Regions from separate parts of the Homo sapiens genome. Here region 1 is linked to region 2. The links come from fine-mapping of genetic effects on gene expression. A gene starts in region 2. The other region holds a variant in brackets. All regions are shown on one strand. Distances are from middle to middle.

Evidence for each region. PIP is the estimated chance that this variant, and not a neighbour inherited with it, causes the effect.
Region 1: its variant is fine-mapped to the expression of CFAP161 in whole blood (TOPMed, PIP above 0.99).

The regions. Positions count from the first base shown.
Region 1 is chr15:81,109,496-81,114,879 of GRCh38, forward strand. It overlaps a transcript of CFAP161 not described here. Among named protein-coding and RNA genes, the nearest start is that of CFAP161, 22 kb to the right of the region's middle. RefSeq lists an enhancer at 2,110-2,269. The variant A/G (reference allele first, on the strand shown) is at 3,096.
Region 2 is chr15:81,131,662-81,137,045 of GRCh38, forward strand. CFAP161 (cilia and flagella associated protein 161) reads left to right here and starts at 2,609. Exons shown (of 7, transcript NM_173528.4): 1 at 2,609-2,737; 2 at 3,609-3,698; 3 at 4,855-5,087. The coding sequence starts at 2,669.

The DNA.
Region 1 (5,384 bases), 22 kb before region 2:
TGTATGTGCTCCAGCCTGGGCAACATAGTAAGACCCTGTCTCTACAAAAAATTTAAAAATTAGCTGGGTGTGGTGGTGTATGCCTGTAGTCCCAGCTATTCAGGAGGCTGAGGCAGGAGGATCACTGGAGTCCAGGAGTTTGAGGCTGTGATGACCTATGATTGCACCATGGCACCCCAACCTAGATGACAGGGTAAGACCTTATCTCAAAAAAGAATTGCGTAAGTTACCAATTGAGATGTCTATGATGTTGGTTATTGTTTCTACTGTTAATGTCAATTCTCTTTAATCAGGGCATAAAGAAGATAATATTTTTCCTTCCAAATTGATGTGGATGGTCTACCACTGCAGGCTTCATCTTCAACATTGCCTCATCCCTTATTAAAATTAATTATTCATTTTTAAACTGCTGATTTCTTTGGGGCATTATTACCATAAACTTTCATAAAGCATCAGTGATTTCACCATTTTTCCACCCAAATTTCTGCATAAATTTGATGTTTGTTCTTGGTCCAATTTTAGCAGAATCCATGTAGCTCTGATACGAGATCTTTGCAAACTGATGTCTTATCCTTCTTAGTGCCTCAAAATAGATCCTGTTCAGACATTCAGTACAGGTTAGTGTGAGTTTGTTTTGGTGCAAAATTTTTTTAAATCCATGTATAGTTTTTTCATAAGATGTGTCTTCCATGAACTTTTTGAAGACCTCTCATATTTGTTTTATGTAATTGAATTCTGTCTTGCTTTTGTTTAAAAGAAGTCTCCCCTGCTTAAAAGGGGGCAAAAATTTAAAAAATTTTCTGGTGATTTTGAAGGACAGCATCCTCCTATAACGAAAATATCAGTTAAAGGTCTCTATGTTTTTTGATATCTAGAATAAATGACTTGAAGCCCCCCACTCCCTCCATCCCCTTTATGCCACTTAGAAGTCTGAAACCCTCCCCAGGATATCTGTGAATTTCCAGGAGGGTGCTGTTCTCCTGGTCACCCTTGCCTCTGGGTGCTTCTGGAGAATGCATCACCACAGATGGGAAACTTCATTTCTTTTCACTCTCTTAGGCAGACTGAGACTAAACACTACTCTGGGTCCATGCCGGCATTCCCATACCCACCAGAGTGTTAACTACAAAAGGGTTTCCCTTTTTAGAAGCCAGTGGAGAAAGTAAATAGTAAGAAATCTCTTCCGCTCTCAGGATTTCATAGTATAAGCAGGCATATTACCCAAGTGGTCAGCTTCGGTGGAAGGGGACTGGAGACTGACCACCAGATGATCAAGGGCACTAAAAAGGGGATGCAAGACCTTAGGCTCATAGTCCTGTTCCTGGGGACGAATGCTGGGCTCTGGTGGCCATGCTGGGCTGCGGAGAAGCAAAGGTGCATTGTTGGTGTGATATTCTTTCCCCCAGGGGTCTGCTAGAAGCTGAAGGCAAAAATAGATGGAGACAAAAAAGACTAGGAGACCCTTTCTATGTAGAGACATCACTCTATGTTCTTTGCAGAGAATAGGAATACGTGCCTTTGATCAGATGAGCTATTAAAAAATGATTATGTAGTTCTGTTAAACTGGATTATTTTCAATATCCTGTCTGCTTTTTCAAAGGACTGTTATTTAGTGGGAAAACATTGCTGAATTCCTTTCAGAGAAATCCTCCCTGTACTGACCCTTCGGCAACACACCTTACACATGTAACTACTTGTTCAGAACAGTCTTCTCCTTCTGACTCTCCACAAAGGCGGGGACCATGAGTATCTTATTTCCCACTGCATCCAGAAGGCTGAGCACAGTGCTTGACGCACAGTGAATTTTGGTTGAATGAACAATTGAAAGGATTTGCCCATTGCAGTGTCATTTTTCCAAGACCTGACAATATCACTTTTGATTCTTTTCTTATTTAGTTCCACCTCCTTATCCCCGCTGCCACTGCTTAAGTCAGCACACGGCATCACCTCTCCTGGGGCTATCTTTAACTAGGCTTCCTGACCCCCTACCCTGGCCTGTCTGCTTTAAATCCAGGCAATGGCCTGTAGCCCCAGCAACCTTCCGAAAGCTCTACTCTCTGTCCCTTGTCAATTTCCTCTTCTGAAAGTTTCAGGGGCTCTCCACTACTTGCAGAAGAAAACCACCAACTCTTGCCTCGATGCTGAAGGTACTTTCCCATCATCTCCCCTCTGCCTCTCATCACCCTGTGTCCCTCCTGGCCCTTGCTTTCTTGCTTCTGTGCTTGGCCTCATCCTCCTTCCTCTGCCTGGAAAGTGCTTACCTCTGTTCTTGCATCTGCATGTCCAAATCCTATTCATCATTTCTATTATTATGTCATTTAAGTTTCAAAAAGTCTCTGAGTCATTGTTCCTTAAATAGCAGTTTTAAAAGGTGATTCTAAAGAAAAGGATTTGATGTTGAAATTAGCTTAGGAAGTGTTGTATGGATTATTGCCATTTTGTAGATTTATAGTGCAGGCCATTAATTCAAGGATCTGAGAAGATCTGCAATCAAGAAACCTATTTAACTCAGCATTTCTCAAATTTATTTGACCATAGAACCCTTTCCCCTTTCACACCTATTAACATATTGCAGATTATTTTGGAAATACTTTCCCGAGAGTTACCAGTAATATCTTTAATCTGTTTTTAATGATGAAGATGCTGAGGCTCAGAGACAAAAATACTTGCGCAAGCCGAGTGAAAGGAGCTTCAATCTGTTTTTTTTTTTTCTTTACTACACTGTGATGACTTACATTTGTCATCCAACAAGAACTTTTAAACTTTCCGAACTATGGAAAGTAAGACAATAGCCTGTATTTATCTTTCCTAATATCTGAATTTTGTCCCACTTCTCTTTTCTAAAAATGATTATTCCCAAGTTTTTCTTTCACTTTTCTTTCCTGCCAGATGTTTTACAAGTAATGAAAGGCTCCAATTAAATTTTCCCAAGAGCTTCATCAAATAATGAAAACAATACATAGAGCATGTTATATCTTTATGAACTTAAAATTAAAACATAATTTTGAGATTACATATAGGTATAATAAAACTATATAAAAAGAAAAGCAAGTGGATAATGAACACAGGATTTAGGAGATGGTTACCTTGGCTGG[A/G]GGTAGGGAGGGATGGGGAATGAAAGACTCTTATATTTAGATGTAGATTATTATCAAGATCTTAGCTTTTATTTTGGGGTTATAGGTTTACAAGTGCTTATTACATTATTTAAAAATAACCGGCTAAATAACTAGAGGACCACTGCTGAGAGTGTGTCATAATCCAATTTAATGTACCTGAGACCCTAAAATAAATACATAAATCATAAAAAAGAAAACAATAGCAAATTAAGTTTTCTAGTATATAGCTAGTTTATGTCAAAATAATACTTTTAAAGCGAGGTGAGTGGTGGCCTGATTTTAAGGGGATATTTATTGCTAAGTAATACTGAGTAAATTGCACAGCATCCAATAATGTATGAGTGCATTTCTGTTTTAATCTTGGCTTTGAGAGTTTTTGAGGAATGTAAATTTAAAACTTGATATAATCACATGTAAAATGAATATTTTATGATAAAAAGAGTAAAAAGTAATAAAAGGAGAATTTAAAAAATCCCTTGCATATTTATTATTTTATTATCACCTGGCTTTTAAATTCATCTGCGTTGTAAGTTGTGAGATGATTCTTTATGTTACTTTGTTTATCTTGTTAAGATTCATTTGGGGAGTCAAGGGACTCTGCTCATGCCCAAGTCTGTGCCCTCTAATGAGTAACACCAGAGACTGCACAGTGTCCAGGAAATAGACTTCAGCAAACTAGTCTAGCCAAGGTCACTGGAGTGTTTTCCAACACTAACAACCAATTATTGATTCTCCAGACACCAACTGGGTGTCCAACAATTAAATTCCACTCTGACATTAACTACCTGGAGTTAGTGTCAGATTTCACAGGCTAAAAGCGTTCGGTTTTACAAGACTGCCTTCACTTCAGATGCCAAGTGCAAGTCCTGGGCCACCCATACTTCTGGCTGTAAAATCAGGAGTTCCCATGGCCCCCTCCTCAAGTTCAATTATTTGCTAGAATGACTCATAGAGCCAGGAAAGTACTCTGCGTTTACTGATTTATTACAAAGGATGTTATAAAGGATACAACTCAGTAACAGCCAAATGGAAGAGATGCATAGGGTAAGGAGTGAGGAAAGGGGTGCAGAGCTTCCATGACTTTTCTGGGTGCCACCTTCCCAGCACCTCGATGTGTTCACCAGCCCAGGAGCACATCAACATTTATTGTTCAAGAGTTCTCTCAGAGCTTAATCTCCAGCCCCTCACCTTTCTTCTTGGAGCTGGGTCAGTGGAGCTAAAAGTCTCCACTCTCGAATCACTTGGTCCTTCTGGTGGCCAGTCCCATCACGAGGCTATCTAAGGGCTCCACCCTAAGTTACCTGATTCGTATAAATTCAGTGTGATCAAAAGGAGCTTATTATGAATAACAAAAGACATTCTCATCATTCAGGAAATTCCAAGGGTTTTAGGAGCTCTGTGCCAAGAACAAAGAAGAAAAACCAAATATGTTTCTTATAATACCACAGTTGCCAAACAAATATACTAGCAAACAAGCAAACAAAAACAATGAGCCCTGGGCATGGAGAAAAAATAGACAGAGCTGCTACAACATACAGGCATACCTCAGAGATAACGTGGGTTTGTTTCCAGACTGCTGCACTGAAGCATATATTGCATTAAAGTGAGTCACATAGATTTTTGTTTTCCCAGTGCATATAAACATTTATACTTACACTATACTGTGGTCTATTAAGTGTTCAATGGCTTTATGTCTAAAAAATGTACATATCTTAATTTAAAAATAGTTTACTGCTAAAAAATGCTTAGAGCCATTTGGGCTTTCAGTGAGTTGTAATCTTTATGATAGTGGAGGATCTTGCCTTGCTGTTGTTGGCTGCTGACTGTTGAGGGTGGGGGTTGATTAGGGTGGCTATGGCAATTTCTTAAAATAACACAACAAAGAAGTTTGCCACATTGATTGACTCTTCTTTCACATGTCAATCTAAACAAACAGAGAGAGGCTCTCTGAAAGAAAAGATGTATGTTTGGGGATAGAACATCGCAATGGGAATATGCATGTCATAGTAAACTAAGTGCATATTCATGGAGGTAGAGGAAGACGAGGGTTTTTGTTTGTTTGTTTGTTTTAAGACGGAGTCTCGCTCTGTCGCCCAGGCTGGAGTGCAGTGGCGCGATCTCGGCTCACTGCAAGCTCCGCCTCCCGGGTTCACGTCATTCTCCTGCCTCAGCCTCCCGAGTAGCTGGGACTGCAGGCACCCACCACCACGCCCAGCTAATTTTTTGTATTTTTAGTAGAGACAGGGTTTCACCATGTTGGTCAGGATG
Region 2 (5,384 bases):
AAAACAAATAGCATCTTGGAGGAATGCAGGATATCAGTAAGTGCATCAATATACACATGATGGGAGTTTCATAAAGACAGAAGACAGACAAAGGATCAGAAAAAATATTCCAAACAATAAGGCCTGAAAATTCCCCAAATTTGATGAAAAGAGCATTAATTTACATATTCAGGCAGCTCAAGCAGGATAAAAGAAAAGAGGTCAATATCCAAATATATCTAGTTAAAATATTAAAGACAAAGACAAAAAAAATCTTGAAAGCAGCAAGAGTATGTGTAAGGGAAGCAAAATAAGATTAATAGCTGATTTCTCATCAGAAATAATGGAGGCCATGGCTGGGCAGGGTGGCTTATGCCTGTAATCCCAGCACTTTGGAAGGCTGAGGAGGGCCGATCACTTGAGGTCAGGAGTTCAAGACCAGCCTGGCCAACCTGGTAAAACCCCATCTCTACTAAAAATACAAAAATTACCCAGGCATGGTGGCACATGCCTTTAGCCCCAGGTACTCAGGAGGCTGAGGCATGAGAATTGCTTGAACCTGGGAAGCAGAGGTTGCAGTGAGCCGAGATTGTGCTGCTGTACTCCAGCCAGGTTGATAGAGTGAGACTCTGTCTTGGAAGAAAAAGAAATAAGGGAGTCCAGAGGTAGTAGGATGGCATATTTAAAATATTGAAAGAAAGAAAAAAACGCTATCAACAAAGAATCATGTATCCAGAAAAAGCATCTTATTAAGGTAAGCAAAAACCAAGAGAATGTGTTGCTAGCAGACCTGATTTATAAGAAATATGGAAGGAAGTTATTCAGGTTGAAAACAACACAAAGCAGTAATTTGTGTTCATAGAAAAATACCATAGAGCACCAATAAAGATATTTCTTCTCCTGAGTGATTTAAAGCAATTGTATAAAACACTATGTATAATTGTATTATTGGGTCTATTATATATAGAAATGTAATATACTTGTCAAAAATAGCACTAAGGAAGTAGGTGGGAGCAAAGCTGTATCAGTGTAAGGACTTACTGAATGACCCAATCATTAGAACCTTGTTAAAAATGTAGAGACTAGAGCTGCTTTGTTTTATTCTTGATTTTATGAGGAATATGAAAAATACTTAAAAGGAAAAACAAACAAACATGACTTTGGAGTCGGAAAGTTTGGACTGAGTCCTTTCTTTGAGCAACTTTTAGCAGTTTGAATTTAGACTGCTAGCTTCTTTGAGTCTCAGTTTCTGAATTTATCAAATGCAGTTAGTGGTATACTATCTGATCTAACTGCTTTGTCCTATGTGTCCTTCAGAAGTATCCTCGAATGTGGTGATATATTGACAGAGCTGGTGGATTCATCAGAATGTGGGAATGTTCCTATTTTTATTCTACACTTCAGCCTGCCAGTTCAAATCCTTCCCAGTTCAGCTCCAAAGCAGCCCCTCTCCCATCACTCAAAGGCCATCCAATTCCCATTCTCACAGTTCCTCAAGACAGAAAGGATCCTTCAACTCCATGGCCCTTCATCAGCATATATATATATATATATATATATATATATATATATATATATATATATGTATTTTTTTTTAAATTGGAGATGGGGTCTCACTATGTTGCCCAGGCTGGTCTAGAACTCCTGGGCTCAAGTGATCCTCCTGCCTCGGCTTCCCAAAGTGCTGGATTATAGGCTTGAGCCACCACGCCAGCCCATCAGCACATCTTTAATTGCATTTTTCCACAGTCTTCCTTAAGTAATTCGTTTTCATGAACTATCTTTTCTTTTAGACTGGGTTTGCTGAAGGGAGCGGAGGCTCCTGTCTTCCATTTCAGTCATGTCTTACTAGACACTAAATAGAGGTAAATTACTGAATGCATTCAATCTGCATCAAGCCTCCGGTAGTCCTACAGTAACTGGTATCCCTCCCCTCCCCAGAAAATAATATTTTGTTTTATTAATGCTGGCTACAGCAGAGTCTGGTTTTCTTAAGAGTTCCTGCAAATCACAGGTTCGTCCTTTAACTTTGAGACCCAGGGAAGGAGGGAGCAAGGGAGGGAGGGAGGGAGGATGCTGTCAAGTCCGCAAAAATATGGACAACCTCAGAAACCTATAAACAGAAATATACTAACATGGTATATTTCTTACTTTTAAGGCCCTGAAATTATTAATTTTCCTTTCTTCTTTCTATGCGATTTTGGTTTCCAAATGTGTACATTGAGCAGGTATTGTTTTATGATTAGGGCGAAATTGCTGCTGCTGCTGCTGCTGCTGCTGCTGCTGATTACAAAAAATAGGCTGCAAGCAAGCCGTGCTTCCATTTAAAAGCTCCTCTTTGTTGCCTCGACAAGCAAGGGGTACTCGATAGCACTTTTCGGTTAGATTCTAATAGAAAGAAAGCTTTAAATTTCTCTCTCGGAAGCACTTTGTCAGCCAGGGTTTTCCCTCTCGCCCACCCTGCAGTTAAGGAAATCTAAGAGGTGGAAGTGGGGCGGGCTGGAGGGCCACAGACAGCCGCTGACCCAGACGCCCCATCTCCCGCCCCAGGGCGAGGGTGCGCGCTGTCGCTTATTGGCCAGCAGGGTCCCAGACCTTGACCAATCGCCTGGGGCCGGGTCGTCATGGCGACGCGCCACGCTAACGCATGGTGTCGGAGGGAGGCCCACTTGCTGAACAGCAGGGAGCGATGGCGCAGAACGTGTATGGTCCGGGAGTCCGGATAGGCAACTGGAATGAGGATGTCTACCTGGAGGAGGTACGCAGGGTGTGGCCAGGCGCAGACCCGCAGCTCAGGAACTCCCAGACCCTGCTCTAAGTTCAGTCTCCTACTTTGAGCGCCTCAAGCCTCCTCTCTCTCCCAGCATACAGCGAATACCTCTAAAATCCCCCACTTCTCTAAACTCCCAAGGAATCTCACCTGCCGAACTGCAAACCCAGGTCTCACTGACCTCTACTCCGAGCACCCTGACTTTTCTTTCTCTGGGTCCCTTGGCCTCCCAAAGTCAGATGCCTTGACTCTCAAGCCCCTGGCCTGTGTCTCCCGCTTAGTCTAGAGCCCCACTAAGTCCCCCGTATTCCTTAGAGTCTTACAGTCTCAGGCTGCGGGCCAGGTGAGGACACAGGTTCTAGGTAGAAATAATATCCCTCCCCACTCCAACCCTGCCACGCTTGCCCTCTTAAATGACCCTGAGTATTCCTTTTATTGACGTTGTACTCACTCACTGCCTCGTATTCTCCCAAGGGTGGTCTTAACAAGGCTTTGAGCCATTCGTATACGGGTCAGATTGGGGAGGGGTGAACTTTCTAGTGTCAGTCATCATACGGTCAAGGGAAACCCCAGCAGGGGAGACATGGCCTCCAAATGTCATTTAGGATGGTATCTGGCTGGAGTAATTACTGGTGATGTTTCTTTTTCTTTGTTTTGCCTTTCTCATTTTTCTAAACATTCTATAATGTAGTAAAAATATTAAAGTAGTGCTAAAAACGTTCCATCATTCCAATTATGCTCACATCTCTTTTTTTGTACTCAAATTTTGCTTTTTCAACTTGGAAGAGCTTCTGACCTAAAAGTTATTAATACTAACATCTATATTATTCAGGGCTACTTTTGTTGATTTTCTGTTTAGGAGCTCATGAAAGACTTCTTAGAGAAGAGAGACAAGGGGAAACTTCTCATACAGAGAAGTAGAAGACTAAAACAGAATCTCTTGAGACCGGTAACTTTTTTTTTTTTTATTACACTTTAAGTTTTAGGGTACATGTGCACAACGTGCAGGTTTGTTACATATGTATACATATGCTATGTTGGTGTGCTGCACCCATTAACTCGTCATTTAACATTAGGTATATCTCCTAATGCTATCCCTCTCCCCTCCCCCCACCCCACAACAGGCCCCAGTGTGCGATGTTCCCCTTCCTGTGTCCATGTGTTCTCCATTGTTCAATTCCCACCTATGAGTGAGAATATGCGGTGTTTGGTTTTCTGTCCCTGCGATAGTTTGCTCAGAATGATGGTTTCCAGCTTCATCCATGTCCCTACAAAGGACATGAACTCATCATTTTTTATGGCTGCATAGTATTCCATGGTGTATATGTGCCACATTTTCTTAATCCAGTCTATCGTTGTTGGACATTTAGGTTGGTTCCAAGTCTTTGCTATTGTGAATAGTGCCGCAGTTGGTGGGACTGTAAACTAGTTCAACCATTGTGGAAGTCAGTGTGGCAATTCCTCAGGGATCTAGAACTAGAAATACCATTTGACCCAGACATCCCATTACTGGGTATATACCCAAAGGATTATAAAACATGCTGCTATAAAGACACATGCACACGTATGTTTATTGAGACCGGTAACTTTAAATTCAGACATTGTTTTCAAAATTCTGTTGAACTTGGTGTGAGTATATGTTAAGCAAGAAAAAAATTTCATAACTGAGTTACCATTTGGAAAATAACAGTTTTTAAAAACAATTTGCAATGTTTTAAATTCTTCTAAGATTTTAGAAACATAAACAGTCTGCCCTAAATCATGTTTACCTGCATTTTACAAATAAAGAAATAAATGAGTTAATATGTAAATAAGTAAAATGCCCCTTAGTTGGTAATCGACAAATTTTTCAATGAATGTTGAATTTCTAGGATAATGAGTAAATCCATGTGATTTTAACCAGCTTTATTCGACTTCATTTGGAATTATTGGGAGCTTTGCCTTGGCAAAGGGGAAGGGAAAGGAAGAAGGAACTAAGGGTTCGAGGGAATCCAAGTGAAATCCTGAATGAAATGGGTACTAGTCCGAGAAGGAAGAAAATTGCCTTGGCAGTAACTGTTGAGGAATTGCATGGTTTATGTAATAAACTACTATCAAAATTGTAGATGCAACTTTCCGTAACTGAAGATGGCTATATTCATTACGGTGACAAAGTGATGCTTGTGAATCCTGATGATCCTGACACAGAAGCTGATGTGTTTCTGCGTGGGGACCTGAGCCTGTGTATGACTCCAGATGAAATTCAGTCCCATCTGAAAGACGAATTAGAGGTACCCTGTGGCCTGAGCGCAGTTCAAGCCAAGACCCCAATTGGCAGAAACACTTTTATCATTTTGAGGTAAAGAGACTTTAATTTTCAGTTCATTTTCATCATAAATATGTTTCACTTGTAGCTTAAAGATTCCTGGGTATTGGAGCCACTGAGTGGAGGGAAAGGTTTTGTGAACATTTTTCGTGATTTTCATCTTGCTTTGCTTACCTTGAGAATTATTGTCAAAGGAACTTTACAATCCCTTTTTACCTTAGACAGCAGGATAATTGTGTTCAATTCAAAATGCTTAAATCATGAGTATAGGATCCAGGGAATTAAATCCATATTCTGCCTGGAAGCAAAGTAGGTTTTCCCTATAACATT